2 linked regions of the Homo sapiens genome follow. The protein of the gene in region 2 purifies or fractionates together with the protein of the main gene of each other region. This does not show direct contact. Each region holds a gene or a part of one and is shown on either strand. Other genes may lie near its edges.

Region 1 (3,809 bases), on a different chromosome or scaffold from region 2:
GAAACAGAGATAAACACAGACAGAAGTGAGACTTCAAAAGAGGTAGAAAAGGAGATTGTAAGCTAGAGAGAGAAGAGGTTATACTAACAGCCAAGGTGCTCTTGAAGGACCATGGCCTGCAAGAATACTAACTCACCACTTAACCATTATTCCAACCTCAAATGCTCTTCTTCATCTGAAGCTGTCCTTAGCTCAGAATGGGAAAGATGCAGTGGGGGTGAGCAAAAAAGAAAGACAGGGGTTTCAGCAATGGCTTGAGCAGCATCACTAGGACAAGAAGATAACTAACTGTGTGACTTTGAACTACGAACTGTGAAGTTCATAATGGGGCTATAAGTAAAATGTTAGGAAACACTATAGAAGTCTGATTTAAAGACAAAAGAAAATGGCAAAACCATAGCAGATAGTATTGGCTGCCTACCCAGTCACCACGCCCAATCCTGCATCCCTGCCGCCACCTTGCTGGCAAAGTCCTCCTTTTGTTCCGGTGTTGCCCTGCCCCTCACTTGACTCAGAGGGAAGTCCTGGTTACTCTAAATCAATTGCAGAGTCCTTTGCCTTCCTCTTGTTAGAGCTTGTTTAGGGATAAGTGTGCAGCCCTCTCTAATTCCCATGAAAGGAAAACCACTGGAGATTGTCAGCTCAGCAAAAGACGGTAAGAAGAGCCATAGCCATCTTGGGATCTTGAGGGGAGCTAATTAAGAAAAAGCTACCTTCCGTAAAATGACAAAAAAGAAACAAGGAGAGAACTTACGTCCTTGCTGACATCAAGCCACTGAACTAACCAACCTGAAAGCTACCCTACCCCTTGACCTATAGGAGATAATCAATTTTCCTTAATGTTTTAGCTATTTGGATTTAAGGGTTTTTTTTATTATTATTATTTGTTTGTTTCTTTGTTTAAGACAGGGTCTCAGCCAGGCACAGTGGCTCACGCCTATAATCCCAGCACTTTGGGAGGCCGAGGCAGGCAGATCACAAGGTCAGGAGTTCGAGACCAGCCTGGCCAACATAGAAACCTCATCTCTACTAAAAATACATAAAATTAGCCAGGTGTGGTGGCGGGTACCTGTAGTCCAAGCTACTTGGAGGCTGAGGCAGGAGAATCGCTTAAACCCGGGAGGCGGAGATTGCAGTGAGCTGAGATTGTGTCACTGCACTCCAGCCTGGGCAACAGAGCGAGACTCTGTCTCAAAAAAAAATAAAGACAGGGTCTGGCTCTGCCACCCAGGCCGGAATACAGGCACGATCATAGCTCAATGCAGCCTCAACCTCCCAGACTCAAGAGATCTTCCTCCCACCTCAGCCTCCTGAGTAGCTGAGACCAAAAGCACACGACACCATACCTGGCTAATTTGTTTTGCTATTTTTTGTAGAGATGGGTCTCACTATATTGCCCAGGATGGTCTAGAACTCCTGGCTTCAAGTAATCCTCCTGCCTCAGCCTCCCAAAGTGTTGGGATTATACGTGTGAGCCACCAAACCCAGCCTTTTTTATTTCTTATAGCTGTAACATCATAAGTAGTTCAAAATGAAGAATTTTCTGAGATCATAATCATGATTATATTATCACAAATCTACAAAAACAAACAAACTTTAATACCTTCCCTGCTACTTAAATATCTTGAAGTAATCATGTTTCCAATTTTTCCATCTTCCTGCTGGTTTTTTTACTTTACATATTATAAACATATCCAGAAGTCAAACACTTCCATTTAATAATTTTCAGCATTTCTGGCAACCTTAAAAATTTGAATAAAAGTTGCTTTTAAGGGTTTTCCTACTAAATAAGTCTAAATATCTGGTTGTGGGATATTGTAGAGAGTAACTAAAAGGAATAATAATATTTTCACAAAAAAATAAATTCCAGGGGTTTATCAACCAAATGTTTGTTAAATGAATCCTATTATACAACATTATCATATTATACAATTACAAAGGAGTCCCCCAGAGGGGAAAAACTGGCATCCCTCTATTGAGTATAATAAAACATACTGAAAAATGTAAATCTGTTTTTTAAATTGCCAAAAAAATTACTAAATTTTACACAATGCATAAATTCAAAATTGGAACATTATGCTATGCTATATTCCAAATAAATTAGAAAACAAAAAGTATCAAAAAGGAGGAAATATTACTGTGTCAAAAACTTTAACCATCTTCACAGAGTGAATTCCCACAGCAGAGATAACAATGTCTAACTCTTTAATGACTTAAATTTTTCACCAGCTCAAACACGTTTTCTTTACAACGCTTGCCATAAAGTCTCACCCATTTGTGCCTGCTATAAAAACATCACCACTGTAAATCTGACTGGTCCATTACTTGAGCGCACTAGCCCTTTCCTGTCCACCTTGACCCAGTAACTTACACCTTTATAAGTATACTTGCTCCATACGTGACATGTATACCTTCAACAGACAAGCTGCTTAAGAGAGCCCTGAACATGCTGTTAAGAGTCTTCCAAAGAAGAATCGTTTTAAAATTCTTATAATGAATTTTAAAACCCCAGTGTTCTAAGGTAGGAGTTCAATCACCTCTATCCATGGAGGGAAACAGAATATCTGTTAATTCATTCAAATATTTCATGAGTACCTACCATGTATTGGTACCAGCTAAGCACCAAGATGGCAATAAACAAAGCAAACACGGCCCCTCTCTTCATCAACTCAGCCTAGAGCAAGGGTCAGCAAACATTTTCTGTAAAGGGACACAGAGTAAATATTTATGCTTGCAGGCCATAAGGCCTCTGTCACAACTACTCAACTCTGACACTGTCATATGAAAGCAGCTATAGACAAGTAAATGAATTAATATGACTGTGTCCCAATAAAACCTTGTGAATGAAATTAAAATTTCATAATTTATTAAATAAATTTCTCATGAAATCATATTCTTTTGATTTGTTTCAACCACTTAAAAACGTAAAGACCATTCTTAGCTCGTAAGCCATAAAAAACAGGTAGCAGGTCAGATTTGGCCCATGGGCTGTAGTTTGCCGCCACCTAGTCTAGACATTAATATTAACTGTAAAATTACGTGTTTACTGCTTTAAGTGCTCACAGGGAAAACACATAAGGCTATGAGAGTTTAATGAGGAGACATGGCCTAGTTTGAAGGGATCAGAAAAGGCTTTTCCAAGGAAGTGACTTTCAGACTGAAACTTAAAGCAACCAGCCAAAAGCCAGGGAGCAAAGCAAAGAGCCTCCTAGACAAGTGAACCACATATGCAAAAGCCCTCTAAGAGGAAGGAATACAACCAACTGAAGAATCTGTGAGGCTGCAGTGCAATGAGCAAAGAAAAGCACACCACAAGGTGACCCTATAGAGAGATGGAGAACAGCCACACACAGGGTCTTGTTGTCCAGGGTCAAGGGTTCTGGTCTTTGTCCTAAGAGCAATGGGAAACCATTAAAGGGTTTTAAGTAGGAGAGGAACACAATTAGCTTGGGATTTTTCAAAGATCACCAAGACTGCAATACGAAGAAAAATTAGAAGGGAGCATGAACAGTTACGGAGAGATCTGTAACCAAGGTACTGGGCTGGAGATGACAGAGGCTTGAACCGGAGTGCTGGCAGTGACGTTGAGAAGGTCAAAGAGGCAAGATGTGGTGACTAGATATAGAAGAGTGAGAGGCAGGTTCCCTACAGGACTCGAGTCTCCAGTTTCCACAACCAGGGCATTGGTATCATTCGGTGAACCAGAGATAAAGTACTGAAAAAGCCGGGGGTGAGGGGTACGATTTTGAGGACAGATTTAAACATGCTGAGTTTGAGTTGCCTGTACAATATTCTAGTGTAAATGCTAA
Region 2 (4,568 bases):
GGAGTTCAACCTGGCCACATGGTGAAACCCCATCTCTACTAAAAATACAAAAATTAGCCAGGTGTGGTGGTGCATGCCTGTAGTCCCAGCTACTCTGGAGGCTGAGGCAGGAGAATTGCTTGAACCTGGAAGGTGGAGGTTGCAGTGAGCCAAAATCACGCCACTGCACTCCAGCCTGGGCAACAGAGCAAGACTCCGTCTCAAAAAAAAAAAAAACAAAAAACCATAGGCCGGGCATGGTGGCTCACGCCTGTAATCCCAGCACTTTGGGAGGCCGAGACGGACAGATCACAAGGTCAGGATTTTGAGACCAGCCTGGCCAATATGGTGAAACCCCGTCTCTACTGAAAAAAATATATATATATACAAAAATTAACCAGGCGTGGTGGCAGGTGCCTGTAGCCCCAGCTACTTGGGAGGCTGAGGCAGGAGAATAGCTTGAACCCGGGCGGCGAAGGTTGAGTGAGCCGAGATTGCACCACTGCACTCCAGCCTGGGCGACAGAGCGAGACTCCATCTCAAAAAAAAGAGTAGTAAGTTCCACCCACCTCCCAGTATGGTGACTTGCCATGGCATCTGGCACCCCTGACAGTTCTCTTCACACTGCCATGGGGGCTCTGGCACTCCCACACCATACCCTAGGGCAGGGTCCCTCCCTCGGCCTCTGTCCATTCTCTTCACACTGCCATGGGGGCTCTGGCACTCCCACACCATACCCTAGGGCTGGGTCCCTTCCTTGGCCTCTGTCCTCAGCCCCTCTGACGTTAGAGGAGTTGGAACCCAGGCTCCCCCTTCCCCTCTCCCAGGTGCCCCATGGCAGCCCAGACTCTGTGTCTGCAGTTCAGGGGCAGGGAGTCAGGAGGGCAGGCACAAAGCGTTCTCAGGAAGAACTGGCAATCGGGCGCAAGGGTATCATCTGCCCGGGTGCTCTGGGCACCCTGGAGTCCTCTCCCCACCTCCCACCCCCACCTGATCCTTCCCAGCTGCCACCATTCCTCTCCCACCACACCACCCAGGCCAAAATCACTCCATCCATGACGCCTACAGTAGCCCAGCGTAGGTCTCCCTGGACCACATTTATCCTCAAGGGCCTGTGTCCTTATCCCCCCTTCACCCCCAACTCTCCCCTGCCACAGCCAGCCCTCTGTTCCTCTCACACCCCAAGCTCATTCCTACCTTCACTGGCCTCTTACTCCCCAGCTGAAATATCACCTCCTTAGCAGAGCTTTCCCAGTGAGATAACCCCCCCGCTCCCCGCAGAGCTCTCCCATCACCCAGGGTGTTTCCTTCATGGAACTCATGACAATGTGAGGTTGCCATGTTTCTTTGCTAAGAGGTTTCTTGTGTAAACACCAGGAAGGAAAGGACCTGTGCCTGTCCTCTTCCCTAAGCACTTGAATGAATGAATGAATGAATGAATGTGGTATGGGTGCCTGAGTGAGCAGGACCTTGAATAAGTGTGAGGTCCTCTCTAGGCTTCAGCTTCCTCCGCCTCCTCCCCTCACCGCAGCCGCCTTCCTCCACCCATCCCCACCATCCCAGCTGCTGTGAAATGGGCAAATGTCTTGCCTCCAGGACCTGGGAAGGGTGATGCAGCTCACCTCCCTCCTGTTCACACCCCAGCCACCCCAGCCATCCCAGCCGGGTCCCAGCCACCCACACAGCACCTCCTCCTGGCCCCGCCCTGCCCAGCCCCTCCCAGGTGCCTGAGGTGGAGCCGCCAGTTCCCACAGCACCCCAGCGGCCTGCCATGGGGGGTCTAAGGCCCTGGTCCCGATACGGGCTCCTGGTTGTGGCCCACTTGCTGGCCCTGGGGCTTGGGGCTGTGGTGTTCCAGGCCCTGGAGGGGCCTCCTGCATGCAGGCTTCAGGCTGAGCTCAGGGCAGAGCTGGCAGCCTTCCAGGCAGAGCATAGGGCCTGCCTGCCACCCGGAGCTCTGGAAGAGCTGCTGGGCACTGCCCTGGCCACCCAGGCCCATGGGGTCTCCACCCTGGGCAACAGCTCAGAGGGCAGGACCTGGGACCTTCCCTCAGCCCTGCTCTTCGCTGCCAGCATCCTCACCACCACAGGTAAGAGAGCCAGGCAGCCAAGTCGGGGGGTGCGGCTCCAAGAGGCCATGGCTCCCTGGGGGCTTTGGGGTTCATGCAGCCCTTCCTTCAGCCCCAAAGAGCCAGATGGAGCCCAGGCCCTGTGAGGCCTGACATCACAGCTGGGGCTCCCCACCAACACACCCCAACTGGTGCCTCCACTTCAACTGCCAGGAAGGGTGTGGCCTCCCCAGTCCCACCCCAGGCACCCTTTGAGACCCAGGAGAGCTGCCCAGATGCCACAGCCTGTGGCCAGATAGGGGATACAATACAGTGGGATGGATTCTTGGATGGAAGCAAATAGAATGAACCTGGGAAGGACAGATCAGGACCATGGCCTCGGGTGGGGGAGTGAGGGAAGATAGGGGAGGAAGTCGGCATGAGATGCTTGTGGATCAGGAGGGCACAGACAGGGATGAGGGAGTCCTGCAGAGAAATCGCGTGGGCACAGGCCCAGGGAAAAGCAGCAATGAGACCCACAGCCCTGGGTTTTCGTATTTTTTGCCCCACAAAGTGTCTCAGTATTTTTTGAATTGGAATTTGTATTTCCAACTTTTTTTTTTTTTGAAACGGTGTCTGACCCTGTCACCCAGGCTGGGGTGCGGTGGTGCGATCTTGGCTCACTGCAACCTCCACCTCCCGGGTTCTAGCAATTCTCCTGCCTCAGCCTCCTGAGTAGCTGGGACTACAGGCATGCACCACCATGCCCGGCTAATTTTTGTGTTTTTAGTAGAGACGGGGTTTTGCCATGTTGGCCAGGCTGTTCTCAAACTCCTGACCTCAAGTGATCCACCTGCCTCAGCCTCCCAAAGTGTTGGGATTACAGGTGTGAGCCACTGTGCCCAGCTCATATTTCCAACTTCTTTTGGAAAATCAGGAAACCCACTCACACTGAGCCAGAATCCCTGCAAGGCAACATCCTGACTGGAGCAGAATGGGGCCTGCCCTTTGGATACAGCTCACACTTTCCAGTGTACCCCTGTCCCCACCACTCCTGTTTGTCTCCCATCTGGCTCCGGTAGGCATGTGCGTTTGCAGCTCTGTATTAGCTGATCCTGTTCTCCCAGCACACCCCGCACTCCCACCCCTCCCCGCCTGGCACATGCCCTCTCTCGCCCATGCTGCCTCTTTGCAGCCCTTCATGATTTGCCTGCCCGACTCCCCCACCAGAAGGGGCAGGGCCTGGGCTGATTCAGATCCCAGTACAAAGCCTGGCACACAGGACATGACACACATTTGGGGAAAGAGTGGATGATATTCCACCAGCTGTGGAATCGGGAGTATCTGTTAAGGGCAGCGCAGTTCTCAGAATTGTCCCAGCTACAAAAGGCCTGAGGAACTGTCTTCTTTCATCCTTTCATTTTCCAAAAAAGAAAAGAATGGCCTAGAGAGGGTAAGGGATCCCCTGACGAAGAGGAGCAGAGCCAGCTAGAACCTGGGCCTGGCCAGTTCAAGGCCACCAGAGGGCAGCCTTCTGCGGAAGGCAGTATTGGGGTAGGCAGGGACCCCAGCAGACATGGCACTCAGAGCTCTCACTGTCCACTGACTCTCTCTTCTCCAGGTTATGGCCACATGGCCCCACTATCGCCAGGCGGAAAGGCCTTCTGCATGGTCTATGCAGCCCTGGGGCTGCCAGCCTCCTTAGCTCTCGTGGCCACCCTGCGCCATTGCCTGCTGCCTGTGCTCAGCCGCCCACGTGCCTGGGTAGCGGTCCACTGGCAGCTGTCACCGGCCAGGGCTGCGCTGCTGCAGGCAGTTGCACTGGGACTGCTGGTGGCCAGCAGCTTTGTGCTGCTGCCAGCGCTGGTGCTGTGGGGCCTTCAGGGCGACTGCAGCCTGCTGGGGGCCGTCTACTTCTGCTTCAGCTCGCTCAGCACCATTGGCCTGGAGGACTTGCTGCCCGGCCGCGGCCGCAGCCTGCACCCCGTGATTTACCACCTGGGCCAGCTCGCACTTCTTGGTAAGTCCAGCCACCTAACAGCGTGTGGGGGAAGGGGGAAGAGGAGCCTGGACTAGGACTCCCATAAATCACTGGGGGGCTGGGCCTTGCAGGTGGAGGGACCTCACTCCAGGGCACGGCGTGGGAGGGGTAGTCGAAGAGCTCTGGTGGCAGCGTTGAGAAGGGGGTGAGTGGTGCCAGTTGCCAGGGCAAGTCACTGCGCTGGGAGGTGGGCGGGGAGCATCACCAGAACCCAGGCGCTGCCCCAGCACCTTCTCCTCCCCAGGTTACTTGCTTCTAGGACTCTTGGCCATGCTGCTGGCAGTGGAGACCTTCTCTGAGCTGCCGCAGGTCCGTGCCATGGGGAAGTTCTTCAGACCCAGTGGTCCTGTGACTGCTGAGGACCAAGGTGGCATCCTAGGGCAGGATGAACTGGCTCTGAGCACCCTGCCGCCCGCGGCCCCAGCTTCAGGACAAGCCCCTGCTTGCTGAAGCGTCAGGTGACCGAGTTCAGCTCCGTAAGGTGGCGGCACCTGAGGAGG

Evidence for each region.
Region 1: the proteins of KCNK7 (region 2) and SLC44A1 purify together in Homo sapiens (affinity purification with mass spectrometry; one large-scale study listed by BioGRID and IntAct). This does not show direct contact.

The regions. Positions count from the first base shown.
Region 1 is NC_000009.12:105,251,127-105,254,935, reverse strand, and holds part of SLC44A1 (choline transporter-like protein 1), read right to left. Parts: intron 1-3,809.
Region 2 is NC_000011.10:65,592,955-65,597,522, reverse strand, and holds the start of KCNK7 (potassium channel subfamily K member 7), read left to right. Parts: upstream 1-1,722; 5' UTR 1,723-1,750; coding exon 1,751-2,069; intron 2,070-3,648; coding exon 3,649-4,047; coding exon of another isoform or gene 4,048-4,103; exon of another isoform or gene 4,104-4,139; coding exon of another isoform or gene 4,140-4,180; exon of another isoform or gene 4,181-4,312; coding exon 4,313-4,518; 3' UTR 4,519-4,568. UniProt on the Homo sapiens protein: Probable potassium channel subunit. No channel activity observed in vitro as protein remains in the endoplasmic reticulum. May need to associate with an as yet unknown partner in order to reach the plasma membrane.